5 separate regions of the Homo sapiens genome follow, and regions 1, 2, 3 and 4 are each linked to region 5. The links come from fine-mapping of genetic effects on gene expression. A gene starts in region 5. Each other region holds a variant in brackets. All regions are shown on one strand. Distances are between the middles of the regions. Region 1 holds the start of LINC02927 (long intergenic non-protein coding RNA 2927). Region 2 overlaps CD99L2 (CD99 molecule like 2). Region 3 overlaps CD99L2 (CD99 molecule like 2). Region 4 has its middle 24 kb from the start of HMGB3. Region 5 holds the start of HMGB3 (high mobility group box 3).

What was found.
Region 1: its variant is fine-mapped to the expression of HMGB3 in tibial nerve (GTEx, PIP above 0.99).
Region 2: its variant is fine-mapped to the expression of HMGB3 in nasal epithelium (TOPMed, PIP above 0.99).
Region 3: its variant is fine-mapped to the expression of HMGB3 in whole blood (TOPMed, PIP above 0.99). The same link has a PIP of 0.9 or more in T cells, blood mononuclear cells and monocytes.
Region 4: its variant is fine-mapped to the expression of HMGB3 in spleen (GTEx, PIP above 0.99).

Annotation. Positions count from the first base shown.
Region 1 is chrX:150,917,142-150,923,623 of GRCh38, forward strand. LINC02927 (long intergenic non-protein coding RNA 2927) reads left to right here and starts at 61. Exons shown (of 3, transcript NR_186570.1): 1 at 61-142; 2 at 2,628-2,795; 3 at 3,645-3,797. The variant A/G (reference allele first, on the strand shown) is at 3,172.
Region 2 is chrX:150,846,199-150,852,680 of GRCh38, forward strand. All of the region lies in intron 1 of CD99L2 (CD99 molecule like 2), which reads right to left. Among named protein-coding and RNA genes, the nearest start is that of CD99L2, 49 kb to the right of the region's middle. The variant C/T (reference allele first, on the strand shown) is at 2,879.
Region 3 is chrX:150,765,285-150,771,766 of GRCh38, forward strand. It overlaps CD99L2 (CD99 molecule like 2), which reads right to left. Exons shown (of 11, transcript NM_031462.4): 10 at 5,020-5,085; 11 at 1,052-3,817. The coding sequence ends at 3,750. Among named protein-coding and RNA genes, the nearest start is that of MTMR1, 75 kb to the left of the region's middle. RefSeq lists a silencer at 2,404-2,513. The variant C/G (reference allele first, on the strand shown) is at 2,991.
Region 4 is chrX:150,955,782-150,962,263 of GRCh38, forward strand. No RefSeq gene overlaps it. Among named protein-coding and RNA genes, the nearest start is that of HMGB3, 24 kb to the right of the region's middle. The variant G/C (reference allele first, on the strand shown) is at 2,498.
Region 5 is chrX:150,981,217-150,986,216 of GRCh38, forward strand. It overlaps HMGB3 (high mobility group box 3), which reads left to right and starts at 2,119. Exons shown (of 5, transcript NM_005342.4): 1 at 2,119-2,160; 2 at 4,379-4,533; 3 at 4,835-4,974. The coding sequence starts at 4,384. RefSeq lists an enhancer at 1,133-1,828 and a silencer at 1,950-2,149.

The sequences.
Region 1 (6,482 bases), 63 kb before region 5:
GAAGAGAGACCTGAGTGAGCATGCTCAGCCCCCTCGACATGTGATGTCCTTTGCCACCTCAGTACTCTGCAGAATCCCCGCCGGCAAGAAGTCCCTGACCAGATGCAGCCCCTCAACCTTGGACGTTTCAGCCTCCACAACTGTAAGAAATAAATTCCTTTTCCTTATAAATTACCCAGTTTGGGGTATTCTGTTATAAACAACAGAAAACGGGCTAAGAGAGTTAGAGATGCTTCCTGAATCACAACAGAAAGTTCTGTACATCTTTTATCCCTATACCCTCTGAGGAGCTTATTCTGCTCTAGACGGACAGAGGTGATATCCCACTCATCTCCTGGTCAGCTCACAGTGCCTGGATGCATGTCATGTTCTGGGTACCAGTAGCCTCTCTGAGAGACATTAACAGGCTGGATTTGCTTCAGGAGCCAGTGATCAGGATGTTAAAGGGAAGTTAGAATTTTCTTTTCTTTTCTTTTCTTTCTTTTTCTTTTTTTTTTTTTTTTTGAGATAGAGTCTCTCTCTGTCACCCAGGCCGGACTGCAGTGGTGTGATCTTGGCTCACTGCAACCTCTGCCACCCAGGTTCAAGCGATTTTCCTGCCTCAGCCTCCCGAGTAACTGGGACTACAGGCATGCACCACCACGTCCAGTTAATTTTTGCGTTTTTAGTAGAGATGTGGTTTCATCATGTTGGCCAGGCTGGTCTTGAACTCCTGACCTCTAGCAATCTGCCCGCCTTGGCCTCCCAAAGTGCTAGGATTACAGGTGTGAGCCACTGCACCTGACCTATGGAAGTCGGAATTTTCATACAATGAATAATCTTGGTGAGTGTTTGGACCGGAGAAAAAGATGACTGTAAGGGGTAAAAAGGAAAGGAGTGATGAGGGAGACTCCTGGAGGGAGCTCCTGGGGAATTTGATCTGTATTCTGTGGCCTCAGCTTATGAAAATAAGGATAAAGGGGAAAAGCTACAGGGTGATGGACTCTGGAACTTTCTTGTTTTAAAAGAGACAGAGTCTCACCCTGTCACCCAGGCTGGAGTGTAGTGGTATGATCATAGCTCACTGTAGACACAAACTTTCGGACTCAGGTAATCCTCCTGCCTTAGCCCCCCAAGTAGCTAGAACGATAGATACATGCCACCCCACCCAGCTAATTTTTTTAATTTTTATTTTTGTAGAGATGAGTCTTACTATGTTGCCCAGGCTGGTCTCTAACTGCTGGCCTCAAGTGATCCTCCCCGCCTTGGCCTTCCAAAGTGCTGGGATTAGAGGCATGAGCCACCATGCCTGCCTGGCTGGATTCGGGAACTTCCTAAGGGGCAGAACAACCTCAAGATGGAGGAGCTGCCTCTGTAGGAAGGGAGTTCCCATTCTTCAAGATATCCAGCCTAGTCTCCCTTTGAGGTCCTTTTCAACCTAGAGGCCCCATGACTCTCCTCCCGCATGAGGGTTGAGCCAGGATAATATGGAAAGTCTGGGTTCCAAAACTGCTAGAGAAAAGCAAAAAGAGGTTTGGCAGGTCCTTTGGTTAGCCCCACATTTGAGACACACCTCTGAGGCTCTGCCACGTCCCACCCATGGCTGAACGGAATCATACACAGATTTTTCTGCCCACCTTTCCACACTCACCCTGTGATCCAGAGCTCAGAGAGTGAGACTGAGAGAGCTCATGCCAGGAGCTTTTAGTTGTCAAGAAAAGGAGTCATCGTGTCTTTAGAAACAGGATGAATGCGGAAAGCATACACACTGAAACGATTTCTAAGATTCTATATAGATCAAGGCCAGGGTCTAGCTGCTGAATTGGGGCCTAGCCTATCCTTTCCAGACAACACAATTCTAAAGTGCATTTCTCTCTTTTTTTTTAAAATTTATTATTATTATACTTTAAGTTTTAGGGTACATGTGTAAAGTGCATTTCTCAACACACCCCTTCATCTCTTGAAAATGAAATGCTGCCGGCCGCGGTGGCTCACGCCTGTAATGCCAGCACTTTGGGAGGCTGAGGTGGGCGGATCACGAGGTCAGGAGTTCGAGACCAGTCTGACGAACACAGGGAAACCCCTTCTCTGCTAAAAATACAAAACAAAATTAGCCGGGTTTGGTGGCGGGCACCTGTAATTCCAGCTACTCAAGAGGCTGAGGCAAGAGAATCACTTGAACCCAGGAGGCGGAGGTTGCAGTGAGCTGAGATAGCGCCACTGTACTCAAGCCTGGGCAATAGAGCGAGACTCTGTCTCAAAGAAAAAAAAAAAGAAAAGAAACAAGAAAAAGAAAATGAAATGTAATCCATGTCCTTGCAGGTTCTTCATCAGATCTGCATTGAGAGCTACATGAGAGGCTTTCCAAGCACAGCACAATAGAGCAGGGGCCTCCCTCAGTGTAATCTGCTTCAGCCCCCATGTTTAAAGAGGAAGGGACTGAGGCCCAGAAATGGGGAACAACTTGTCCAAGGTCACACAGGAAGGCAGTGGCAACATAAACCAGGCCTTGTGCCTTCACATGGGCTCAGTGCCATTGCAGCATTGCAGGCAGTGTGACTTACCCTGCTGTGGCTTTTCAGTGGCCCCCTGGGGGCCACACCTGCCACCCTGTTCTCCCTGCTAAAAGGTCTTTTCCTTTGTACCAGGTACTTCTGTCAAGTCCAAATCAAGCAGAATGGGTTCCAACCAGCAGCAGGGTTTTCACTTGTAAGCAAACCACAGAAGGGATCAGCCACCAACCCAACAGATGAACAACTTGACTTGCTTTCCAATGGAGCCCAGCATTTGAAGCTGTGATAATTGTCAGTTTAAATGTTAGTAAGTGAATGCTTGTAATTTACAAGTGAAGCTGCTTCTCTTATCAAGGGTCCCATTTCCTGTGGGCTGTTTGGAAGTATAAACTGTTATCAGAGGATTTGTGCTTATTTGAGGCTTGGCTTGCCCATCTGGTCAGAGAGAGAAAGTCTGGAGAGTATGCTGAGTCTAATTCTGCTGTACCCCATGACGAGCCTGTCCTGTTCAACATTCCACTTGCGGTCCATGAATCAAGCGCTATTCATGGGCACAGAACAGAATGAACCAACCTAAACCATTTCGCTTGCTTGACATTCTCTAAATCCCACTCCCCCCTTTAAACGCACAAGCTCAGGGCCTGTTTCAAAGGGCAAATATTGTGAAAATGAAGAAATT[A/G]TTACAGATTATACTTGGAAAGAGTTCAAATGTTGTTGAAATACCGTGATCTGTAGGTGGCATGTCTTCAAAGAGATTCATTTGAATAGATCAGGCTGAGGAACAGTCAATAGCAAAATAGTTATTTGTGTATCAAGTATGGACAAATTCTCACATACCAGGAGGCTGCGAGACAGCACTTTCACAAGCTGATTTTAGATTTTGGCCCAACAGCTCTAAAGGCAAAGGCTTTCTAGGCTAAAGGGATGATTAGAAAGATAATAGACAAAGTCAACTCCAGATGTACCAGTTGACCACCCCTCTGCCAACTGAAACCCTACTCTTGGGTTGATTTCACAGCTCAGGAGGGGAGCTCAAACTCAAACTTGTCAATTTTGTGACTCAATAACAGACCCACTTTGGGGTGGGAGAAAAATGGAAGTATGAGCTAAAAAGGAGATTCTTTCAATTGCCTTTGCCCTTCTGTTTTCTAGGCTGTCTATGTCCTCCAACAGCTCAGAGACTCAGAGTTGATGCGCTGGATTCTACTGCAAGTTGCGTCTTGATAAACATAGTTACTATGTGAGCCAGCAAATTCCATTTCTAGATATATACCCAAGAGAAATAAAAACTCATGTTCACAGGAATGCTTGTACACAAATGATCATAGCAGCATCATTCATAATAGCCAAAGTGGGAGCAAACCAAATGTCCATCAAGCAATGGATGGATAAACAAAATGTGATCCAGTCATACAATGGAATATTATTCAGCCATTAAAAGAAATGAAATACTGATCTGTGCTCAAACATGGATGGACCTTGAAAACATTAGGCTAAATGGAAAATGCCAGACACAGAAGATAGGACACATAATCAGACACATGTTGTATGATTCCATTTATATGAAATGTACAGAATGGGCAAATCCACAGAGACAGAAAGCAGATGAATGGTTTCCAGGGGCTGGGGGGAGAGGGATGAAGAATGACTCCTTAATGGGTGCAGGGTTTCTTGTAGGGTGAAGAAAATATTCTAAAATTGATTTTATAATGGTGATTGCCCAACTCTGTGAATGTACTAGAAACCACAGGTAGTACATTTTAAAATGGTTAAGTGGTAAATGTCTTTTTTAAACATTTTATTATCACTATATATATCATAAAAGTTATTATTTTGACCACTATTAAGTATGCAATTCATTGACATTAAGTACATTTACAATATTGTGCAACTGTCACCACCATCCATCTCCAGAACTTTCTCATCATCCTAAACTGCAACTCCATACCCATTAAATACTTGCTATTACTCCCTCCCTTCCCCCAGCCCCTGGAGATTTGTTTTGTTTTGTTTTGTTTTGAGATGGCATCTCAGTCTGTCACCCAGGTTGGAGTGCAGCAGTGCAACCTCAGCTCACTGCAACCTCTGCCTCCAGGGTTCAAGCAATTCTCCTGCCTCAGCCTCCCGAGTAGCTGGGATTACAGGTATGCGCCATCACACCCAGCTAATTTTTGTATTTTTAGTAGAGATGGGTTTTTGCCATGTTGGCCAGGCTGGTCTCGAACTCCTGACCTCAGGCAAGCTGCCCGCCTTGGCCTCCCAAAAAAAAAAAGTGCTGGGATTACAGGCGTGAGTCACCGCCCCCAGACCCCACTGGAGATTTCTAATCTATTTGCTCTCAATGATTTTGACTATTCTAGGTACTTTATATAAGTGGAATCAAACAATATTTGGCCTTTTGTGTCCGGTTTATTTCACTTAGCATAATGTTTTCAAAGTTCATTTGTCGGCCAAGTGTGGTGGGTCACGCCTGTAACCCCAGCACTTTAGGAGGCTGAGGCAAGTGGATCACTTGAGCTCAGGAGTTTGAGACCAGACTGGGCAATATGGCGAAATCTCATCTCTACAAAAACAAACAAATGGACAAAAAATTACCCGGATATGATGGCATGCACCTGTAGTCCCACCTACTTGGGAGGCTGAGATGGGGGGATTGCTTCAACCTGGGACGTCAAGGCTACAGTGAGCAGAGATGGCACCACTGTACTCCAGCATGGGTGACAGAGCAAGACCCTGTCTTTTTTTTTCTTTTTTTAAGAGGGAGTCTCACTCTGTTGCCAGGCTGAAGTGCAGTGGCATGATCTCGGCTCACTGCAACCTCCGCCTCCCGGGTTCAAGCGATTCTCCTGCCTCAGCCTCCCGAGTAGCTGTGACTACAAGTGCACACCACCACACCCAGCTAATTTTTGTATTTTTAGTAGAGATGGGGTTTCACCATGTTGGCCAGGATGCTCTCGATCTCTTGACTTCGAGACCTGCCCGCCTCAGCCTCCCACCGTGCTGGGATTACAGGCGTGAGCCACCACACCTGACTCCAAGACCCTGTCTTAAAAACAAAATAAAATAAAAACAAAAACAAAAAACAAAGTTCATTCATGTTGTAGAATGGATTAAAATGTTAAATTTTATATTATGTGAGTTTTATCTCAATTTTAAAATGATTGGCTGGGCACAATGGCTCACGCCTGTAATCACAGCACTTTGAGAGGCTGAGGTGGGCAGATTGCTTAAGCTCAGGAGTTCAAGGCCAGCCTGGGCAACATAGTTAGACCTCATCTCTACAACAACAACAACAAAATACAAAAATTAGCCAGGCATGGTGGTGCCACCGTACTCCAGCCTGGGTGACAGAGACCCAGTCTCAAAAAAAAAAAAATATACACACACACACACACACACACACACACACACACACATATATGCACATACACGTCTATATACATACATATATATATATATATATATATATATATATATATATATATATATATATATATATATATATTGCATCCAGGCTGGGGCTTATGCCTGTAATCCCGGAACTTTGAGAGGTCCAAGCAAGAGGATCACTTGAGCTCAGGAGTTCAACACCAGCCTGGGCAACGTAGCAAGACCCTACCTCTACAAAAAATTAGCTGGGCAGGGTGACACACACCTATAGTCCTAGCTACTCGGGAGACTGAGGGTGGAGGATTGCTTAAGCCTGGGAGGTAGAAGCTGCAGTGAGTAATGATGGCACCACTGCACTCCAGCCTTGGCAACAAAGCAAGACCTTGTCTCAAAAATACATATATATACTGCACCCTGATGTGAGGTTTCCCTGTGTGTTAGGAACAGACACCTCTTAAATAAGCTTGGTGTCAGGGCATAGGGCCCAAACAACTCCCACGGCCCCCTTGGGCTGTATGTAGCCATACATACATGAATTCCTTCGTGAATGCATTTGAAACCTCTGTGCAGTTGCTGGGGTCACAGATGCATACACCACCC
Region 2 (6,482 bases), 130 kb before region 5:
AAAAAATAATAAAAATAACTTAAAAATAAAAATAAAAGATACTACATGTTTGTCAAAGGTGACACTGCTGGTGTCACACACACAATTGGGGCCAAGGTTTCCAAACTCTGGTCAAAGGCTGTTCCAGGGCAACACATGAGGATATCGGCACTGGTGACCAGCTTTGGAGCCAAACAGGCAGGATGCAGACACCAGCTCTGCCACTTAGCAGGAGAGACACCTTGCGCAAGGGACTTAACAGCGCTATACCTCAGTTTCCTCATCTATAAAATGGAGATAACAAGAGACCCTACTGCAGTGAGTTAATGTGAGGATTAAATAATCATTATATATAAAGCATTTAGCACAATATGTGACATAGGAATCCCTCAAATGTTAGCTAATATTATTATTAAATTTGGTATTAAGTAGAATCCACTAGTAAGTAGAAGGCCTTCAATAAATATGCATGAGTAAATGGCTTATAAGAGAATCATTAAAATGTTCAAAAGCTTAATGGATGAAGAGAGAAAAAAGCCACACTCTAATCTAAACTCACCCAGTGCTTGATAAGCCTTTAGATTCTACTGATACGACATAAGTTTGGGAAACTGAGGCACAAGAATGTAAGTGATTTGGACAAGGCCACCCCAAATCAGTCTGTTGACTAATAACAAATGCACATGGTATTTCCTTCCCCTGAAGGCAGCATAAACACCAATGGATCCTGTGTACTTTCTTAAGTCAGGTAAGAATCTATGTCTAGTTGGTGTTGCATGTATGAACATTTCCAAATCAGAGCCAGGCAGAGTGGAACAGGACCTCAGAAATCATCAAGATTTTCAGCCTTGCCATCTGGCCAGGCCAATGCAGAGGGAGAAAGGCGCTGAGCACGAGGCACCTCCTACCCTGTATCCCCAACCCAGACCTTTGTCCTCAATTCCAATCCTGCAGGTCCTGCTACCCAGGGGAGATTTCCATAGCACCTCCAAGGAAGCATGTCCTGAATTGGACTCTGTCTTCCCTTGTGCTAGTAATCCTGGTCCAGCTATCCTTGTGCTAGTAATACCCAGTCTTAACTACTGTTGTGTTGTAGTAAGTTTTGAAATGGGGAAGTGTGAGTCTACCAACTTTGTGCCTGTTTTTCAAGCTTGTTTGGCTATTTTGGGTCCCTTGGATTTCTGTATGAATTTTAGGATCAGCTTGTCAATTTCTGCAAAAAGACAGCTGGGATTCTGATAGGGATTGTGTTGAATCTGTAGTTCAATTTGGGAAGTATCATTCCATCTATTTTTAAACATGCTCAAATCTCTCCCATTTTAACTAGAAAACCCTCTTTTGACTGTACATCCCCATCTTGATACTGCTTTCTCTCCCACCCCTTCATAACCAAACTCATAAAATGACTATCTATCCTTGCTGTATCTGCTTGCTCCCTCTCAAATCACTCCTCAGTATCTCACAGCCAGCTCCCACTCAGAATCCACAAAACTAAATGCCAAGCCCTGGCTCTCCAACCTAGACCCTTTTCCTGAGTTCCCTGTTTGTTTCACTGAATGGCACAGCCACCCACTGCATTGTCCAAGCCAGAAAGCTGTACACTGTCCCGACATCTTCTCCTTCATTCTCCATAGCCACCCTGTCACCAAGAACTGTCAATTCCACCCCCAGCACATGCACAAAGCCCACCACTTTTCCACTGCCACTACCAAGCCAGGCAGCGATCATCTTTCCCCTGGACAGCCACAAGCACCATCCTCCTGCTCCTTCCAGGTCTATGCTCCATCCAATCCATTCTCCACACAGCAGGCAGGGAGTCCTCCTTTTTCCTTTTTAAACAAACTTCAAGGCACATCACTTCCCTGCTCAAAACTCCCAAAGGCCTCCTCACTACACTGAATATAAGCTCCATATGCCTAACTATGGCCTGCAGGCCCCCCCCCCCTTGTACTATACCTCTCACAGTATTACATAAATTATATTATTTGTTTTCAAATAATGTGTGTCCACTGTGAAAATCTTAGAAAATGCAGAAAAGAAGAAATAAAATAACGGCAAGTGGTTAACAATATGGGTGAACCTTGAAAACATTATGCTAAGTGTAATAAGTCAATCACAAGAAGGCAAATACTATATTCCCATTTTATGAGGTCCCTAGAGTAGTCAAATTCACAGAGATAGATGGTAGAATGATGACTGCCAGGGGCTGGGGAGAGTGGGAGATGGGAAATTGCTTAATGATTAGAGGTTCAGTTTTGCAAGATAAAAAAGTTATGGAGATTGGTTGTACAACAATGTGAACACCCTTAACACCACTAACAATACACTTAGAAATCATCTAAGATGGTAAGTATTATGTGGGTTCTTTTTCCACAATTTAAAAAAAAAAAAAAAAACAGCAAGTGATGCTTTTTAAAAATCAAAATTCAGAAAGACAAAGCCAATTATCTCAAGGCATGTTAACTTTGGACAGAATCTGAAATATCATCTAATTGACCATCCCTAAAATGCAGCAAAGTAATCTCCAGTGTATAATAGAGGTTCTCAGCCAGGGAGGATGAGCTGACCAACCTCAGAAACCTCCTCCCCCTCAGAATTCACTGGGCTGGGGACCCAGGCATGTGCTTTGGAAGTACATTCATTCGTTGGAAGAGTCACGTTTTTGGAAAGTTTTTTGTGTTGACCCCAAAACTGGCCAGTAGATTACCCTGGCACTACAAAGAATAAGTTTGTCCCCTGCTGTCGTATGCTCCTTTAGACATGTGGATCCCGTGCTAAGGGTCACTGGCTACCCGCACCAGGAGATCCTGTCTCCCCACCACAACCTCCACTTCAACCACTTCCTCCCTTTGACTTGTGCAACTTTTCTCCATGAACTTGTCCATGTGCGTCATACTGC[C/T]GGGAAACAGCTTGCTCAAATTCCCTTCCCAAATATACCTAATGGCAGACTGTGGCCTCTATCAACAATCACACTCAAATTCAACACCTGTGTACACAGTTAGGCGATGAAGCCCCAACAGCCGTTGGCACTTCTGTGGTGCTTTGTAAACACTGACTAAGCAATCTGGTGAGCAGCGTCAAAAACAGAATGAGGCCAGGCACGGTGGCTCATGACTGTAATCTCAGCACATTGGGAGGCCAAGGCAGGATGATTGCTTGAGCCCAGGAGTTTGAGACCAGCCTGAGCAACATAGTGAGACCCTGTCCCTATAAAATTTTTAAAAAATTAAAAATTAGCTGGGTATGGTAGTACATGCCTGTAGTCCCAGCTACTTGGGAGGCTGAGGCAGGAGGATTACTTGAGCCAGCCAGGGTGACAGGGTGAGACTCCATCTCTACAAAAAGTTTTTTAAAATTAGCCAAGTGTGGTGGCATACACCTGTAGTCCCAGCTACTCAGCAGGCTGAGGTGGGAGGATTGCTTGAGCCCAGGAGGTTGAGGCTGCAGTGAGCCATGACCGCACCACTGCGCTCCAGCCTGGGAGACAGAGGTAGACTCTGTCTCAAATTGAAACTATACAAAACAAAACACAGAATGAGCTAGCCCTTGTATATCAGTACATCCTGCTCCATAACCTTCTGAAGCCAGCTTGTCATGGAAGCAGGCAATCAGTCTGGCTCATTCCACACCACAAATCTTCCAAGTGAGTAAGAACCCACTGATTCCTGCATCTGTAGAAAATGGGAGATAGGATGTATGACAACTTCAAGGAACATTACTAGGCCCACATCTGCTTGATCTGGCCAACTAAATCCCTAAGCCAGTTCTATATAATATAAATTAAATAAGCATTTAATACTACGCAAAATAAAATTACAGCTATTCAGCTGACCTTTCCCCTTTTCCACTCTGTATTTGTGCCTGTTTACAAGCCCAGTGGGGAAGGTATGCCAAGAATAGAGATGTTCTGAGGACACAACAAGCCAATTAAAACAACAAAACAAAACAAAAAACTAGAAATGACAAATATCCTGCAAGTCTAGATTGTTGAACATGCCTGATCAGGTTGGAGAGGGAAGCAGGAGGAGCCCAAAGAAAGTCTCCTGTATGTCCTAAAGTGGAATCTAGCTTGCCTACTTTCTAAGCCACATTCCAGCCCACATGTGTCCCTTAAGACATGAACCAAGCCAGGCTTGGCAGCAGGCACCTCACCATTAAGGCCAGCTCAGCAGTGGCCATGCTCACCACTCAGAGCCCAGCAACTTAGTAGACCACGTTTATCCCCCAGTTTCACAGAACACATGCCCCTGACAGGGATCCCAAATTTCCCATCCCTACCTAGAACATGTAGGCACCAGCGGACGTGCACATAGAAACAAATATTACACCAGAGGGCTACCCATGTTGCAACAAAGTGATTCTCACAGAGATAAATGTTGCAACAAAGTGATAGAAACACAGTACAACAAAGTGATACTCCATAGAAACAAATGTTGCAACAAAGGATGATCTTATTTGTGTGAAGGACTAATATTTCCTATTCCATTTTATCTCATTCAATATGCTAGTTGCAACTCAACTACTTGCACAGGCCACTGATGGGTTGAGCCCCAGGTGCAACAACATTGTACAGATGCTGCCTAAGAAGTGAGGTGTTTCTTGTATCACAGCCAATCCAGGACTGAAGAAACTCTCTAACCAGGAGTACTTTTTTTTCTTTCTTTTTTTTTTGTTTTTTGAGATGAAGTCTCGCTCTGTCACCCAGACAGAAGTGCAGTGGCACGATCTCAGCTCACCGCAACCTCTGCCTCCCGGGTTCAAGTGATTCTCCTGCCTCAGCCTCCCAAGAAGCTGGGATTACAGGCACGTGCCACGGCACGCGGCTAATTTTTTGTATTTTTAGTAGAGACAGGGTTTCACCATGTTGGCCAGGCTAGTCTTGAACTCCTGACCTCAGGTAATCTGCCTGCCTCGGCCTCCCAAAGTGCTAGGATTATAGGTGTGAGCCACCGCACCCAGCCTACCATGAGTATTTTCTAACCAAATGTGAAAGCCCTCCCCTCCAAGTCAAGACATCTGAATCCTTCACTTGATTCTGTGCCTTCGAACTTGGGCAAATTGCTCCCATCTTCTTCCTCCCTTTTCCCATTCTGTAGAAGGAAGGGATGGGATTAGATAATATAGGACAACATCCACTTATTGAGGACCTAGCAAGGAGCAGCTGCCATGTCAGACACATGGCATCAACACTTCAGTGGTTTGTGAGCTGGCATGGTGCCGATGAGCAGCCTCTTTCACCAATGAGGAGCTGAGGCTCAGATAGATGCAGCAGCACGGGGTCATGCAGCTGGACAGGTCTGATTCCCCCACACATGCCTGCCCCTAAGGTGCTCTAAAAGTAAAGTGCTATGATGAGACAGCTGTATTTTCTATTGGTGCTATAACAAATTCCCACATAGTGGCTCAAAACAGGACAATTTTATGACCTTGCAGTTCCAGAGATCAGAAGTCTAAAATGGGTGGCCCTGGGTTAAAACCGGGGCACCAGCAGGCTGTGTTCCTTCTGAAGCTTCCAATCCATTTCCTTGCCTTTGCCAGCTTCTGGAGGTCACCTGCATTCCTTACTTAGCTCATGGCTCTTTCTCCATTTTCAAAGTATATCACTCCAAACCCTGCTTCTATAATCACATCTACCTCCCTCTTTGACATATCAGGCCCCCTTTGATCACATTGGGCCCACTTGGATAATCCAGGACAATTTCCCATCTTAAGATCCATAACTTAGCCCTATTTGAAAGTCCCGTTTGCCATGTAACGTCACATATTCACAGGTCCCAGAGATTAGGATGTGGACCTCTGAGCAGGGAGGGAACATTAGTCTACTGACCACAACAGCCAATAACCATCATCTGTTTTACTGTTTCAAGCATTTAAATTGTTCACTACTGCTTGGATGAAAGAACTCTTCTCCACATCATTACTCCAGAGTGAAAATCCACTTTATGCTGGGTAGTTAAGGAAGGTGTGCCAGGGTGGTGAACTTACACTAAAAGGGGCCAACTCTGGAGTTGCAGAAGTGCATTTGGCCAAAACAACATTTTTAGAAGTTCGCTCTGTTGTGTGGAGACTTGTTTGTAGGAGGCCAGTTGGGGAGCTGTGGTTGTTTTCCAAACCTGTAAGGACAATGGCTGAGCACAGGATGACAGCTCCCCATCACACCCTGGACCTCTGGACTTCACTTGGTTGCTAAACTTCAGCAGGCTCTATCCCACCTCAGGGCCCTCAGGGGTCCCTCTGCCCGGAAGACTCCTCCCATCTCTTCCCTTCACTAAATTCTGCTTGGGCACCTCAGACTCCTTTTTGAACAGCTTTGTTGAAAGTGTGAAATTCAGTGATTTCTAGTATATTCACAATGTTGTGTAACCATCACCTATCATTTTCCACATTTCCATCACCCCAAAGGGAAAACCCGGACTCATTAAACAGTCCATCCTCCTCATCATCCCTCCCCCAGCCCCCAGCAACCACTAATCTCCTTTCTGTCTCTATAGATTTGCCTGCTC
Region 3 (6,482 bases), 220 kb before region 5:
GGGTGATGAGTCCTTCGCATGCAAGTGCAGTGCTCTCTAAGGCCTCAGACTGCCCCCACCCCAAAGGAAGGGGCGTTCACCTTTTCAGGGCCACGAAGGCCTGGATGAAATCACACCACCCCCTGTGCCCTCTGTGTGTTGTCGGTCTTCTTGTTAAGGGTGTGGGGTCCCTGTCCCTCTCCACACACGTTACTACTGAGTGAGCCAGAGAGCCCGGTATTCACTGGGCACAGAGGATGCCCAGGGGACTGCTTGCCAGCCAGCCTTCCCCAGCAGTGAGACCATAGCAGCTAGCCATGCAGAACTCCTGCACGAGACAGGCATATGGTGGTCTCGGGTTTGAGAGGACCTGATGCTATTATTTCACTAGAAGCCGAGGTTGGCAAAACAAAATGAAAAAACAAACAACCGACCTCCATGTTAAAACCCAGGGTCCACTGCATCTTGTTTGTTTTCATGCTGAAATGCCCTGAACTGAACTGTCGTCTTCTCAATTTGAAGCCAACATGCGAGCTGATGAGAAGGACATACTTCATCCCAAACGGGCCACTCTCCATGAGGCTGCAACAAGTGACGAGGTGCAGGGCTCCTTTCTCACCCAGCTTTCTGGTTGAAAAACAACTGCGCGTTAACTGGAACCTCCACTGGTTACCAGCCTGCTTGGAAGGCGGCAGAGCAGTCGACTTGGGATTTGTGAGCCTGGGACTTTTTGCTGCTTCCAGGCCCCGGACTGCGCAACCCATGTAGCCCGGGAGCGGCCCCGCAGCACTCTGCTCCTGCCTCTGCCCTCTCTAACCCCAGGACATTGGTCGCTCCACATCCCCTGGCCTTAGCTGCTTGTACGGTGAGGAGTCACCCTTGGAAGTCCTGACACTGAGCCAGTCACTGAGGGGTAAATGCAAGAATTCTAAGCTTCTCGAGAAATACCTTCAGCTGGGGGCGGGGCGGGGGGAGGGGGAGGAGGGCAGCTCTGCATCATAAATTACTTACTTTAGGGAAAAGTGGCAACACTTGACCAAGGGCGTGCCTTAACACCATCAGAAGACAAGAATCTGCTCGGTGCCATTTTATTTAATGCAAACACTAGACAGTTTACAAGTCACACCTGGACACAAGCACGTGAACAGATGTACAGGGAATTCTGGAATTTTGAGATCAGTCCCCATTTCTTCCTCAGGGCCCTGGCACTGAACCCCAGCCCCTGTCCCAGAGCCTCCCCTCTGGGTCCCACCCCAGAAGCCACGCACACCTCCTTCCGCCCAGCTTTATCTTTCCTTGAGCTGTGACTTCACCCAGCATGTGCTCAGAGTTGTTACAAATTTTCTCTGCCAAATTAAGCTGATAGAGATTGGCCACTTTCAACCAGTCCTTTCAGTCCACTGTGTCTCCCCTCTCGCTTGGGACAGGCCCATGCTGGCCAGTGCAACCTTCAGATAGACACATGGTGACCAGAGCCCGCCAGGCTTCTGCAGGTGGCAGTGTCGAGCAAGTGTAAGATGTCTGTGGGAAGGAGAAGCTCCTGAAATGAACGTTCTGCAAACAGAAGGCTGAGGGGTCTTCCAGGCATGTCCAGTCACTAGGAGCTGCCACCGGTGGGCTTGAGTGCCAGGCTCTAGGCTTTGTGCAGAAAGCACCCGGGGCGGGGGGCGGTAAGGGAGAGCAAAATGGGTCTCTCTCAACTGCAGTCAGTGCTCCTGGGAACACGGTCTCACAGACAGCACATATTCTACGTCACAGCTCTAGGGTTTCAAGGACTTAGCCATCCGACAGGCCTCACCATAAAGGTAAAGTGGACAACCCCTGAGGTCACGCTGTCCAGGTGGCGACAGGCCACGCATGCCAAAATCCTCCATAGCCACCTCCGGCCCAGCACCAGCCAGAGGGTGGGGCCATCGGTTCTCGACATACTTGGTATCAGGGAGGGACAAGCCTGACAAAGTTCACAATCTGGCCAATGAGTGTGGGAGGCCCTGGAAACAGGCCAATCCTGCAAGCCACCCCACCCTTACTAACTTCCTGAAGCATGGGAAGCTTCTCGAGACCAGGCCAAGGTTTCTTTCCTTCATGGCACCACGCAGAGGCATTTCTGCAGTGCTGCAGGTCCCCCTTCAGCCACACAGTCCAGGTCTGTCAGGGATTAAAGGGCCGAGCAGGAAAAGGGGTGGTAAGGAGCTCAAGGGCACGCACTGGGAATGGCCTCACAAGGCAGCCTTGAGACGCACAGGGCTACAACTGACCACCCTCCACCACAGGCATGTTTGCAAAACGAACACGAGGCATGCGTTAGACAGATGCATGTGGGGGCTGCAGATTCCAGTGGTTTCCTTAAGAAACTGGAGTTGGCTCATCCCACTCAGCAGACAATCCCGCTCAGTGGACAGCCTATGAAACGCATGGGGCCATCATGCAGACCAAAGAGGCCCGTGAGTTTTGTAAGATCCTGCCTGTCTGGTGACTCATATCTGCTTTCAGAAGTGCTTTCTGACACAGCAAACTGACTATCAGTAGACAGGGGCCCTAGACCCTAGCATGTGGTTCTGTCCCGTGAGCCTCTGACAACAGAGCTCACCGGGACAGAACCATATGTGGGCCAAAGGAACATTCCAGGAAACCAGCTCTGCTCCAGCCCAAACCAGGCAGCTCCACGCCAGGTGAGGGGCGAGTCATGGGGTTCCTGTGTTTGCCACGGTGAGCATGGCTCCCCACGCACTCTCCCTCAGAGCAGACAAGTAGGCTGACCACAGAGCTACAAAGTCACCTGCGTTTCACTAAACCAAGCGAATGTCTCTTTCCCCTCTCCTCCCCCGCCGCCCCCAATTACATTTTTAAGCAAACAAGCAGGATTCTGGCTTTGATGCTCGTTCTTGACATCGGTCACTCTTGCTACCAAAACAGGGACACAGGGTGGAGGGTGAGCACCTCTCCCCAACACAGGATAAAACTCATCTCCGGTGCAGAAATGATTGCTAAAGACCTTTCTCATGTCAACC[C/G]GAAGGCCACACCCAGCCCCCTATGGAATCAGATGGGAAACAGGCCTACGAATTGCTTCATACTTATCCGGAAGATTCCTAAGCTCTCAAGGCAGGACTATCACGAGATGCATGTTTGTACTTAAATCACTGAAAGCCTCCGCTTGGACCGGCTCTCCGGAAGCCCAGCAACATAAAACCTGGGATGGGGAAGACTGAAGTGAAACCATCATCCTGGGTGCTGCGTGTGTGTGGTGTTACTTGGTGCTGACCGGTTCGCTCCTTGCAGGGGCTCCAAGTGGGTGCAGGCTGAGCCCCCCACCTGCAGCTCCTTGAGGCCACTGTCAGGGGCTGTCTATTGGCAGAAACCTGCCACAATGAGCCACTCCAGTGTGCAGGGGTCACAGTCCCTTGAGTTCAAACTCTTGTCCCCTAAGCATAAATGTCATCAGGCCTCAGCATCATCTTGGCCCCCGCATCCTGTGCTCAGTAAAGCTGGAGGCAGGCTGGCTTTGGGAGTTGGTGGCTCAGCAGCTCCCGAGGCTGGTGCTGGCTTTCTATCAGAGCTGGCTCTTGAATTTCGGCACCAAGTCTCAGCACGCTTGGGGCAGGGCAGAGAAACCAAACTCACAAACACCCAGAGCTCATCCGGGAAACTCAGACCAACAAGGAGCCGATGGCACAGAGCAGCACAGCAGCTGCGGGTCCAAATGAAGGGGTGGGGGGAGCCGGGTGACAAGCGGTGGCACCATTGTGCATGCCTGCAGCTGGACAGGGCCCTCAGATCCGGGCTGGTTCGGGCGGCGGCGGCGGCTCTGCAGACTGCGTGTGCAACGTGGAGTATTTCACTAGGGGAAAAAGAGGCCGTCAGAAGGAATTCTGCTCTGTCTTGCACAGAAGAAGCAAATACAGCAGCAAGCCCGTGCTGGGAACAGAACTGGGTTTCCCTTTGTATCCCCTGGGGGGCCGCTTAGCAACCTTCCCTCCTGAGCCTGGGAGCAGTTTTGGGCCGGTCAAGGGGAGAGAAAGAGAAAGCTGGACAGGCTCTGGAAACAGCTCAGCCTCCATCTCCTCACCTAAAAAATGAGCGTGTTCCTGCCAGCGCTGCTGGAAGGGTTATTTTAAACAAAGGGCTCAACCTAGCACCTGCCCACACAGATGCTGGCCTCGTGGTGGCTAACCGTGGCAAAGCTCATGACAGTGGATGCGACAGCGGAATCCATTTTTCCACATCTGAACCCAGGCCTATTTTAGTTCATTTGGTGCAGCACTGCCACCCGTCTTCAGCAGCATTGTAGGGCACCTGGCTCCCAGTACACACCACACAGGCTGAGCCCCTCCTGGTCTCCCAGGCCCAGTCCCCACGGCTGCTGCACTGTAGTTCCACTGGCAACACTCGCCTGAGCTGTCCTAGTCTCCCTGCCTGCGCCACCAGGCCTCGGCTGCTCCCCGACCCCAGCAAGCCTTTCCGGACCTCCTCATTGGCATCCCGTGGGCACAGGTCATATCTGCCTCGAGCAGTTGGGCACTCTAGGCCTGTGGCCTGAACTTATGCGACCTCAAATTGCCAACAGCTCCTGAATCCAGAAAGTGCTTGATGACCACAGAAGGGGGAGGGAGGGGCACAGGTGTTGACAATAGGGTCTGGGTTTTACCCAAGTTCCCTCTTGCCTGTGGCAATTTGCAAAGGGAAAAGTTCTAGGTCTAGGTGAAAAGCTTCCCCATGGCTCTGTTCAGGATGTAATTGTATTCGCTGATGGGGAGCAGAGGTGCCTGGGGCTCTGGCTCGGACGGACGAATCAAGGGCAGGGGCCGAGCAGCCGCAATGCCCAGAAGTCACAGGCATGGCAGCAGATGGCCCTGGCTGTCACCCCAGCATCTTTGGGCTCCTGAAACTGGGAGGCAGGCTCATCAGGGCAGGCTTTTGCTCTGGCCGGACATTCTAGAAGCAGACGCCTCTGTGCTTCCCTGCTTCTCTAGCACAGTTCTGCTCAGTGCTGGGACCAACTAGGAAAGCGTCAGCAAGGGACAGTGAGTACAAAGTTCTCACCTTGGGGTTCCTCACATACCACGGCTTCCAGGTTCTCTCCCTTCACGTAGTCTGCGTTGAGACCCTCTGCAAAGGGAAAAGGGCAGAGTTAGTGATGCGCACAGGACCTAAGGGTCCCCAATCGTGACTGAGAACTCCTGACCAAGTCCTCTGCAGCTAAAAAAGCAGCACAGCTCCCCTGGGGAACTCAAAACCCTGCACCCTGAGCCACCTGAACATCCTTATCCGGATGAAGACTGTTCGTCCCAGAATTCACTGCCCAGGAGTTCTCATCATCGTCCTCAGAAATAACAACGACATGCAGCGAAGGCTTCCGGCACTCCATCCTCATAGGGCAGCTGCCACCGCGTCAAGACGGCAGCTCCGCCCAGTGGAGGGGGCGCCCGATGGCAGGGCTCAGCACCATCCACAGGTCCGTGTGCGTGTGCGGCCCGGGGGCCAGGGAGCCAATCGCTATGAGTGATTGATGGATGCAGGGCAGGGAGGGGCGGATGGCTGAGTGGGGCTCAGCATGTAGATGCAGCAAAGCCTCCTGCCAACATGCAGCCTCCCAGCAACACCCGCGCGGAGGCCAACTGCTCCTCCCAGCAGCAGGAATAACCGCTGTGTCCACCTGAGCTTGGAGGGGCCAGCCCACCAGCAGCTGCTTCAGTCTAGTTAGTTATCTAGGCTTTCTCTACACCTGTTACAAGAGGGATTCGGGGACTGTACCAAGCATTCCCTCCCGCCAGCAAGGGCCAGTGTTCAAGTTCTTAGAGTGGACCCCACCCCTGCTGCTGCTTGCAGAGAGTCAAGAGTCTGTGTCTCATCCCTGCGTAGCACAGGGACTGGAACCCTTCAGCCCCGGGTCTGTGGGAAAACTGGGGCATGGTTCCAACCGACCGACCGACCGACCAGGCACCAGTGCAAGTCAAGCCATCGTCCTGGGCTACAGGCTCCTTGCCTAAACAAGAATGCCCACCACCTGCCTGCCCCGGTGGCTGCTGGGCTTGAGGTGGGAGCCAAATGGGCCTGTGGCAAATGCGGGCGTTGCTCTTTGGCAGGTGTGGCCGGCCCCACGCAGAGCGGGGCAGGTGATGAGTGCAGTGGAAGCTGCCCCAGGTGCACCTTCCCAGCTGACAGGTGGGGGCCAGGAGACACACCCTGAGCCTCGTGATCACTGCTAGCTGCCAACCCAGTGGGCGCTGGATCGTCTCCTTCCTGTGGGTGGCCCTCTATGTGCTCCCCAGGCATGACCACCAGTGGGCACCTGAGTCCTCACCATGGCACCTCAACTCTCCCCCCACCCCTGCCACATCCAGCCTGGGGACAGAGTGTCTGGCAGGTGGCATCCTCTCACACGCATCAGGGTAAGCTAAAGATGGTCCTGGTTACAGCCACGTCGGTGAGTGCCAGGGAAGCAGGAGGGAGAAGAGCGGCAAGGAAGCGCCAGAGCAGGGGGCGAATGAGGAAGCATCAAGGCT
Region 4 (6,482 bases), 25 kb before region 5:
TATGCATAGGCAATTCTTAGGAGAAGAAACTGAAAAGGCTGGCAAGTAAGTATGTGAAGAGATGCTGGGATCCCAGATTCATTAGTAATCGGAGAAATGGAAATGACAACAATGACATAGGATACACACATGTCAGATTGGCAAAAATCAGCTGTATGATGCCAAGTGTTGGCTAGAATAAGCAGAAGGAGGAACCATTGTGTGCCGCTGCTGGGAGTCCTGCTAGATGGATGCAGGCGCTTTGGAGAGCCACCTAGTAGCATTTAGCCAAATCTTGTCTGTGCCCACACTGTCCCAGTAAGCCCATTCTTGGGTATAACCTCAAGAAATTCTCCTGCAGGCCCACAAAGGGACTGAGTATCTTGTGGCTGCTGTAACAAAATATCACAAACTCAATGGCTCAAAACAACAGAAATGTATTCTCTGATACTTCTGGAGTCAAGAGGTCCAAAATCAGTATCCTTTGGCCGAACCCCAGATGTCAGCAGGGCTATGCTCTCTCAGGAGGTTCTGGGGGGTCTCCACTCCTTGCTTCTTCCAGCTTCTGGTGGCTGCCAGCCTTCCCTGGTCTGCGGCTGCATCGCTTTGATGTTCAAGGCCAGCATCTTCGAATCTCTCCGCTCCCTCTTCACTCTGCCTTCTCTGTGTGAGTGTCAAATCTACCTCTGCTTCTCTTTTATAAGGATATAAGAGTAGTGGGCTGAATAATGTCCCCCCAAATTCACATTCACTTAGAACCTCAGAAAGTGACCTTATTTGGAAATAGGGTCTTTGAAGATGTAATTTGTTAAGATGAGGTCATACTGGAGTAGGAGGGGCCCTTAATCCAATTTCTGCTGTCCTTATAAGAGGACAAAAGGACAGAGAGACAGGGAAGACCATGTGAAGACGAGGCAGAGGTTGGAGTGATGCTGCCACAAACCAAGGAACACCTGAGTCCACTAGAATCCGGAAGAGGCAAGGAGGGGATTCGGAGGCACTGTGGCCCTCCTGACACCTTGATTTCAGACTTCTGGCCTCCAGAACAGTGAGAGAGTAGATTTCTATTGTCTTAAGCCACCAAATTTGTGGTACAGTACTTTGTTACAGCAACCACAGAAAACCAATACAACATGTGACTTCCTTTCCAGCCCACCCTGATAACCCAGGATAATCTCCCCATCTCAAAATCCTCAACACGATCACATCCGCAAAGACCCTTTTTCCATATAAGGCAACATTCACAGACTCCAAGCATTAGGACCTGATACCTTTGGGGTCCATCTTGAGCCTGCTATAGGGACCCATGCAAGGATGTTTATTGTACAGAGCCTGTGCTAGGACAGAATTGGAGGCAATCCAGGTGTCCACCACTGGGGAAAAATAGAAGCAAATGAGTGGTTACAAGCAACTCAGGAACACACAGCAGCATGGACAGTTAACACACACAGGGCTCAGTGGAAAAGCACCCAGTAAGAGACTGAACACACTCTCCAGGCCACTACCACTTATGTTTACTGAAAACACACACACACACACACACACACACACACACACACACACCCCTCTACACAGTTTGACAGAGCACACACTTGAGTGGTTGCCACTGAGGGGAGGAGCATTAGAGTGGAAAACAGTAATTAAAAAGACTGGAGAGATGGATAGATTGATTCAGCCAGAGAAGAATCTCACAGACCAATGATGGTGAGATCATGAATTGAGAAGCAACATTACCTGAAAGCCAAACAAACAAACAAACAAACAAACAAATGGAAAGAAAAAGTCTGTGAGAGGTCCTTTCTGGGGAAAGCTGGCCACCTCTGCAAGTGCCTGGTGTGTTTTGCATAAAGACACATGGTCCCCCAGCCTGGGCAACACAGCAGGTAACAACTTGTCTCTACAAAAAAAAAAAAAAAAAATTAATTATCTGGGCATAGACCGGGCGTGGTGGCTCACACCTGTAATCCCAGCACTTTGGGAGGGTGACGCAGGTGGATCACCTGAGGTCAGGAGTTCGAGACCAGCCTGGTCAAGATCGCGAAACCTCATTTCTACTCAAAATTAGCTGGGCGTGGTGGAGCGCGACTATAGTCCCAGCTACTCCAGAGGCTGAGACAGGAGAATTGCTTGAACCTGGGAGGCGGAGGTTGCAGTGAGCAGAGATCGTGCCATTGCACTCCAGCCTAGGCGACAGAGCAAGACTCCGTCTCGGGGAAAAAAAAAAAAAAAATCCGGGCATGGCAATACATGCCTGAAGTCCCAGCTACCCAGGAGGCTGAGGTGGGAGGATCTCTTGAACCTGGGAGGTCGAGGCTACAGTGAGCCATGATGGTGCCACTGCACTCCAGTGTGGGCGACAGAGCCACGCCTGTCTCAAAAAATAAATAAACAAATATAAATAAATAAATAATAAATAAATTAAAAAGACACATTGTTCCTTCAGTTGGAGCAGCAGTGGGTGGCAGCTAGGGACCTTCATCCTTCCCTACTGTTTGGGGAGGGTGGAACCATGTGGCCT[G/C]CAGAATGGAGAGAGGACATCCTCCCTAGCAACACCAAGGAACAAAGGAAGCCACACTAATGCCATTTGCTGTTGCCTGCCAGTTGTGTTCCATCTGCTGCACTGAGTGTTCCCTCCCAGCAGCCTTGAGCAGCCAGCTGGCATTGTTGGCTCATCCACTGGTCTTAGTTAGGCTTCCCATTATTTGATTCATTCTTGGAACACACCCTGGCCTTCCTCTTTCCGGATGCAATACTTCTCTCAGTGCCACTTGGTCAAGTAGCAGGGATGAGGCCAGTGGCCCTGGAAATAGGCATCTAAACGGTCGCGAATTCGGAATCAGCTTGGTAAACGGTCAGTCATTTTTAACCCCTGGAGAGGGTTTGGATCTTGTTTGTTTAATGCCCCATTGGGTTCCTCATAGTTCCTTGTAAAGTTCCCTTTGAAAATGCCGTCCTACCATGTACGGTGGCTCACGTCTGTAATTCCAGCACTTTGGGAGGCCAAGGCGGGAGGATTATTTGAGGTCAGGAGTTCAAGACCAGCCTGGCCAACATAGTGAAACCCCATCTCCACTAAAAATACAAAAATTAGCCAGGCATGGTGGCACACGCCTGTAATCCCAGCTACCCGGAAGGCTGAGGCACGAGAATGGTTTGAACCCGGGAGGTGGAGGTTGCAGTGAGCCGAGATCACGCCACTGCACTCCAGCCTGGGCGACAGAGTGAGACTCCATCAAAAAAAGAAAGGAAGGAAGGAAGGAAGGAAGGAAGGAAGGAAGGAAGGAAGGAGAAAATGCCATCCTATCTTGACTATGCTTGGGAAGGAAAGAGAACCTGACTTTTAATGTCTTGTCTGTTAGTACCAAGGCCAGAGGGAAAAGGGGAGTAATATTTTATTATAACCTTTTCTTTATCCTCCACAAAGGCCTTTTAGCAGAACTGACCTTAAATGTTTTAAAATCTAACAACAACAAGAAAAATGTGATGTGGCATTCACCTGTGCTCTTATCTGGGCTCTTCTTGATCCACTTAGGGATTCATATTTCCGGGTTCACCGACAGCTGGTTAACTTTGCTATTCATTCCTGCCCACCTCCTCACACCCACTGTTGCAGTCATACCCACGAGACTCAATTTGCAAATACAGGTGAGGAATCAGGCAGTAATTTTTCATCTCCGAAGATGCCTTAACAGCCTGCTCCAGGTCTGTGCTCTTCATGAGCAAATACTTCATTTGAGCCTCGCCATATTTGACACAGCTGGCAGTCCCTGTTCAAAACTGGAACTAGTGCTAAAAACAAAATTCATATAGAGACAGCAACGTATTCTTAGTTGTTTGCTTGGGAGACAGGGATTTGGCCAAACCAGGCAAGGGAAGATGAGAGAGCAGGCAGGAGTAACTTGCCTTGTTTTCCTCCCCATAAGTGTTCCTTGCTGCCTGCTAAGGGAGGCCTTCAGCCAATCACTCAGCCCCTAGAGGCTCAAGTTATTCATCTGTACAATGAGGTTGAAACTAGACAAGTGTTTTCACACTCTGTTGGTGGAAGGTCCTGGGAGGTGCTTCAGGAGCCACCATTGAGGGGATTTAGCAGGTGGGGATCTGGACCTCCTTTTTCAATCATCACTCCTCTGTTTGCATCTGTTGTTTCTATAGGCAATGATTTCATTTGAAAAGTAATTGATTTCGGTGCTAAGAAAATCATTAGAGACTGAGCATGGTGGTTCATGCCTGTAATCCCAACACTTTGGGAGGCCGAGGAGGATTGCTTGAGCCCAGGAGTTTGAGACCAGCCTGGGTAGCATACTGGGACCCTGTCTTTACTAAAAACAAAACAAAATTAGCTGGGCACGGTGGTGCCCAACTGTGGTCCCAGCTACTTGGGAGGCTGAGGTGGGAGGATTGCTTCAGCCTGGGAGGTCGAGGCTGCAGTGAGCCATGATTGCATCACTGTACTTCAGCCTGGGCAACAGAGGGAGAGCCTGTCTCAAAAACAAACAAACAAACAAACAAAGGAAAAAGCCCATACCTTGGACTAGATGAACTCTAAGGACTCTGTGTTAGTTTCCTGGGCTGCCATAACAAAGTACTACAAACTAGGGGGCTTTGAACAACAGGAATATTTAGCCTTTCACGGTTCTGGAGGCCGGAAGTCTAAAATCAGTATCTCTGGGTTGAAACCAAGGTGCTGGCAGGGCCCTGTTTCCTCTGGAAGCTCAAAGGGAGAATCCATTCCTTGTCTCTTCCAGCTTCTGGCAACTTCCTGCATTTCTTGGCTTAAGGATGCATCACTCTGATCTTTAAGACCAGCATCTTCAAATCTGTCTCTGCTCCAGCTTCACATCACCTTCTCATCTGTGCATCAAATCTTTCTCTGCCTCCCTCATAAGGATATACGTGGTTGCATGTAGGACCTACCCAGATAATCCAGAATAGTGTCCCCATCTCAAAATCCTAAACATGATCACATGTACATAAACCTCATTTTATTTATTTATTTATTTTTGCCATTTAAATTAACATTATTGTGGGTAATAAGAGAGAGAGGAAACAAAACAAGTAAGTTAACACTTACAGGTTTTGGTGATTAGAATGTGGATCTCTACTGGGGGACCAGTTTGTAGCCTACCACAGGCCCTTTCAAAAATCAGGTTCTAAGATCCCCTTTCCCCCAAATAATTCCTATCTCAGTAGCTTTCTATACATTCTTATGTCTTAAAGAACCTAAAAGAAGACCGGGTACGGTAGCTCACGCTTATAATCCCAGCACTTTGGGAGGTCAAGGTGGGTGGATCATGAGGTCAGGAGTTCAAGACCAGCCTGGCCAACATGGTGAAACCCCTGTCTCCACTAAAAACAAAAAAATTAGCTGGGCGTGGTGGCAGGTGCTGGTAATCCCAGGTACTCGGGAGGCTGAGGCAGAGAATTGCTCAAACCTGGGAGGCGGAGGTCGCAGTGAGCCGAGATCACACCACTGCACTCCAGCCTGGACAACAGAGTGAGACTCTGTCTAAAAACAAACAAACAAACAAAAAAACCAAAAAACAAACAAACAAACAAAAAACTAAAAAACAAAACCGAAAAGTACAGCATTACTTTTTATTTAACTCAGGAATAGGGAACCCAAACTTGACTCCTTCATCATGAAAGACTGTAGATTTGAGAGCTGTGCCTGAGCTGAGATGTTTTTATTTCTGCTAAAGTGTAGTGGAGGCTGGGCACAGCAGTTCATCCCTGTAATCCCAGCACTTTGGGTGACTGAGGCGAACAGATCACTTGAGGCCAGAAGTTTGAGACCAGCCTGGCCAACATGGCAAAAACCTGTCTCTACTAAAAATACAAAAGTTAGCCGGGCATGGTGGTACGCACCTGTAATCCCAGCTACTTGGGAAGCTGAGGCACGAGAATTGCTTGAACCTAGGTGGAGGTTGCAGTGAGCGGAGATCGCACCACCACACTCCACTCTGGGCAACAGAGCGAGACCCTGTCTCAACAACAACAACAACAACAAGTCTAGTGAAAATCATGAGTTGGTTTTCGTTTCGCTTTGGTTGGCTTTGCTGCCAGAAGATAGCGTGCACCATGCATAACCACAGGGCAATATAAAGAGAAACACCAAATGCTGGCCCCAGGGCACAAGTTAGGACCACAGGTTTTGGTACCTGCTTCCCAGCTTAAGCTCTTTCCTTTTCCCTGTGACCTGGCAACATCCTGTCCACCCCCTGATAGTGGGGATGACATATGTGAGGACTCCCAGATCCTCAGAATTACCTCACAGGTACCTGTACCTTCTAGGATCTATTTGAAAAATGTTTTGTTGCATAGGTTTTTTTCTCCCTTTATACTGTATTTTTTCTGGTCATAAAAGTAATTCCTGATTCGTATCAAATAGTATAAAGAAGTAGAATTTTTTAAGATACTCTACCTCCAAAAAAAAAAAAAAAAAGAAAAGAAAGAAAAAAGAAATAGAATAAAAGATCACCTGTTGGGCCAGGCGCAGTGGCTCA
Region 5 (5,000 bases):
GGATTACCCTGTGTGGAGATGTTGACCTTAAGGCTCAGAGGTGGCTGGAGATGGAAGGAACTGCCATGAAGGAAGATGGTAAGCTCCCTATGAGTGGAGGTATGCAAGCAGAAGGCAGGCAACCACTAAGCTGGTTCTAACAGGACAGAGGGATGGATGAGGTGGCCTTAAGATCTCTGAACTCCTGAGTCTGTAGTGGGGACCTGGGTTAGTGACACAATACCTGCCTGCTCTTGTCAAAAGCAGCACTATCTCTGCCTTTTTTTTTTTTTTTTCGGAGTCTTGCTCTGTTGCCCAGGCTGGAGTGCAGTAGCATGATCTTGGCTCACTGCAACCTCCACCTCCCAGGTTAAAGCGATTCTCCTGCCTCAGCCTCCTACAGGCATGCATCACCACACCTGGCTAATTTTTTTGTATTTTTAGTAGAGACGGGGCTTCATCAGATTGGCCAGGCTGGTCTTGAACTCCTGATCTCGTGATCCGCCTGCCTCAGCCTCCCAAAGTACTGGAATTACAGGCATGAGCCACCGCGCTTGGCCTCTATCTTTGCCTTTTGATCTGGATTGGAACCTTGATGATGGGAGCCAACAGCACCAGCTTCAGGGGCTCAGGCTTGGCTGGGAGGCTCAGAGGAGTTGGTAAGAGGGGGCGTAGGGGTGAAGAAGCAGGTGCCCTGTGAAGCCAGATCCTTTGCACACCTCAAACTCAGCCACGGTTTCTGGAAGCAGCATTTGGAAAATTCATGTTCTGGTGGGGCTTATTTCTGAATATAGGACTCATAAATAGCTGGATCTCTTGGCCTTTCAAAGAAAAGAAAAACCAAACTCATGACATCTCTTCCTTTGCATTATTTTCTCCAACTGTCAATCTTTAAACTGCTCTTTTTCTCACCCTTTCATTCTTTCCAGGCAAGGGCCCTCAGATACTTTCTTTCCAAATAGGGCTGATACTTGCATTTGAAGTGGAGTATTTCTTCCTTGCGTGGGACTGTCCTATGCAATGTAGGATATTTAGTATCCCCGGCCGTTCCTTCCTCTTATTGAATTCCAGCAACACCTGCCAGTCATCCAGGCACCGGCCCCACGAATTTCAGAACATCCCTTACAGAAGTGACACTGCGGCTCCTATACTTTGAAAAACATTGCCTGAATCCCCAAAGAAGTGACTAGCTCAAGGCCATACCACCAGCCAATGGCAAAGTGGAGATCAAGTCAAATCCCATTCATTCATTCATTCACTCATTCATTCCCGAAGCTTTAATTCTTTGCTCTAGGGTGTGTCAGGAGAGCAGAGGGAATGAGGGCCTTGAACCGAGACAGTGAAGAGGGTAAGAAGAAAAGTGTTATTCTTTGCCCACAAAACTACAATTTCTCACAAATTCTCTGCTCTTGCCAAATTTTGTTTTCCTCTTTTAGCCCGTCGGTTCCGCAATTTCGGGCGCAAATAAAGACCTTCTGGCATTTAGTGGAAAGAGCCTAGTTGAGCACGATCCGCAGAAGCGGAATCAGGTGGCTTTCGGATAGGCAGCGAGATCCGAGGACTAAATCCCGAGGTCTTGGCGAGCAAGCAGCTGCCCTCCGCCAGGCATCGAGGAGCGAGCTGCCGCCGCGTTTCTGTCGCGGCGCCGCGGCCGAACCGGGTAGAGGTGGTCTACCATCGGCCCTTCGTGGTGGGCCCAGGGGTGTTTCCCCGGGCAGGGGAGCTGACTGCAGGCCAGGGGCGCCAAGGCCGCGGTGCGGTGGGAGCAGAGGGCAGCGCAGCGGGGCTGGACTTCATCTTCCCACGCCAGAGGCCGAGGCCTCCGGGAATCGCAGGGCCACCTCTTCAAAGCCCTTGGCGATCCCAGTTCTGTTCCCCGAGGGGGCTGGCGAGGTGGGCGGGGCGGGCAGGCGAGACTAGGTCTTTCCCTGTTTGGCCTCCGTAGCCGGCGCCGGCGGGTCGTTCTGTTTGAATGAATGATCCCAGCAGCCGCGCCCAATGGGCGTCCACGCCTGCTTAATATGCATGAGGCCCGCAGCCAATGGCCAGGCGAGGAGGCTGTTTTAAACGGCAGAGCCCGCTGGCCAATCAGGCGGCTCTCGTGGAGGCAGCTAGCGCGAGGCTGGGGAGCGCTGAGCCGCGCGTCGTGCCCTGCGCTGCCCAGACTAGCGAACAATACAGGTACGTCTCGCACCGCCCGCTCCCGCCGCCGCCGCCGCCGCCGCCGCCGCCGCCGCCGCCGCCGCCGCCGCCGCCGCAGCGCCCGCACAACTTTCCGGCCCGCGCCGCCGTGAGCGCGCCCTGCCGCCGCCTCCCCCTGCCTCTACTCCCCATTCCCTTCCCGCCCCCTCCGCCTTCCCTCCTGCTAGGCGGCCGGGAAGGAAGAAGCAATTCAGGTGTTTCAACTTTTCCAACGCGTTCCCCGAGCTCCCCGCTTTCGGGGGTCGGCCCCCTCGGCGGACGCCCGCCCGTGGCGGCCCCAGGGGCCGCAGCCGGGAACCCAGGGCCCCCGAGGCCAGATGTTTGGGCAGCTGCGGCTGCGGCGGCTGGGCGAGCAGAGGGGCGGCTGCGGGCTGTGGGCGCTGGGCGGCGGCAGCGGGAAGGGGGCCGGGAGTTCCCCGGCCCGCGACGGACTCCGCTGGGGAACGGGCGGCCGGTGCCCGCCGGGGGCTGCGCGGCTGGTGCCCGCCGGGGGCCGCCGCACGGGCAAACTTCGCTCCCGGGCTTGGCCCGGCGCCGCGCGGGCCCGCAGGCTACGCCGCTGGCTCTGCGTTAACATGGCCGTCGCGGAGCGCCCGGTGGCCCGGGGGGGCGCGGGCCGGCCGCCCCCCTCTCGCCTCCCGCCCGCCCGGCGCCGCCGCCGCCGCTAACATGGCTGGCGCGGCGCTGGCCTCCGGCGAGGGCAGGGGAGGCGGGCGGAGCGGTCGGCGGGGCGCCCGGCGGGCTCCGGCCTCGGCCCCGGCGCCCGCGGCCCGGGGCGGGCGGCTCGGAGGGCCGGGGGCGCCGCTGCGGGCCCTGGAGCGGCCGAGCGTCATGGCTGCACGGGCGCCTTTGTTATCCCGAGGAGTGCGCCCCGCGCCGGGGGGCGGGGAGGTCCGGCCCGGGCCCCCGAGCCCCCGGGCGGCCCGGGCGGGGCGGGGCGGGGCGGGGTGGGGGCCGACGGGCGGGCGGCGGCGGCGGGGCCCGGGCCGCTTTGTTCGCCGCTGTCGCCGCCGCCCGCGCCGGCCGCGCGCGGATCAGCCATTTTAGCGAGTGGGACTCCGAGGCGCGGCGGACGCCGCCACCAGTGCCGCGGCTGCCGCCGGCCCGGCCGCACACCCCCCGCGCACCGCCACCGCCGCCGCCCCCGGCCCCGCGCGTCCCCCGGGGATGACAGCGGCGGATTTCAGGGGCACTTTCTTTCATCAGGAGGCTTTTGACAAAATGGAAGGTGAATTACGGGTGTCCCGGTGACCCGGCACGGGGGCCGAGGCGGGCTGCCTGCTGCCGGCCGGGACTCCCCCGCTCCCGGTCCCGCCCCGCCCGGGCCGCCGCTGCGGGTCTCTGTTGGGCAGCCTCCTGGGCGGCTGCTGCCAAGGGGAGCTCTTTAGTTTTACATGATGACCTTGGGTGTGGGAAAAGGAAAAGATGGCGGGAAGCTGGGGGGTGGGACAGGGACGATGACATGCCGCAGCTGCATTTTTATTTGGAAACTTTGGAGAAAGTGTTCTCGGCTGGACCTGCATTCTGGGTTACAGATGAGCACGACTAGCCCTTTTTATACACCCTCCCCCTTTAGATAGTGACGAAGTGATGAATTGAACTAATAGTACGGGGGTACCTGCTCACTTTCCAGATCTCCCGTGTTGTAAAGCCGTTTTTTTAGTAAGCCAAAACACATCAACAATAGTGACAATTTCAGATGTCCCCTACGTATAGTTCTCCTGCTTTGGTCTTGTGTTCAGCAGTGGTAAGAGTTGTTGTTTTTAATTGTGTTAACAGTTAGCAGATGACCAGATAGTCTTAAGTCATAGATTTCAAGCTTCTATCACCCCCACCAAATGTGTCCTCTCTCTACCCTTCCCACTTTGTGATTGTAGTTTCCAAAACATAGCAGTTCTGTAAACGTAACACTGAGTACCCTACTTGGGTCGGCTCCATTTGGAGCACTTGATCGCTTTTGAGAAGTAACTCGCAAACCAGCGCGCTTCGTGCTGGTCAAAAGTTAAATGACAAGCGACAATGAAGCTGATTTCTTTCCTACTCTGCCTTCTGCCACTGGTGTCCGGCATTGGGGGAAGGGGACTTCCTAACAGCAAGTGTAGTTTTAGTTTTGCTCTGCCTTTGGTACGTCTTGTACTTCTTGTCAATTCCTCCTTGCTTTTCCTCATTGTATTTCTTTGTTTCTCTTTTATCACAGTCAGGATGGCTAAAGGTGACCCCAAGAAACCAAAGGGCAAGATGTCCGCTTATGCCTTCTTTGTGCAGACATGCAGAGAAGAACATAAGAAGAAAAACCCAGAGGTCCCTGTCAATTTTGCGGAATTTTCCAAGAAGTGCTCTGAGAGGTGGAAGGTATTTTTCTTTGGTACCCTTCAAACTAGTCTTAGTTGGGTTTCTTACTTTGGGGTTACTTACCTTCAGATTTTCTCCCAGATAGCTGCTTGCTTCCTCTTTTACTTTTACTTAGAATCATTTTTGCTTGTCTTAAGAATTTTGTGTGTGTGCTTTTATTTTTTTAAGGCCCTGCACAGGTTTCAGGCCTTTACCTACCCCCTTTTGCAAGTGGTTCTAGCAACTGCTAGTTTAATCACAAGAAACTGAATAGGTATGTGTTCACTGCATCGAGGGATTTAACGAGTCCTGTTCTTTGCAGACGATGTCCGGGAAAGAGAAATCTAAATTTGATGAAATGGCAAAGGCAGATAAAGTGCGCTATGATCGGGAAATGAAGGATTATGGACCAGCTAAGGGAGGCAAGAAGAAGAAGGATCCTAATGCTCCCAAAAGGCCACCGTAAGTGACTATAGGATTCAAGATAA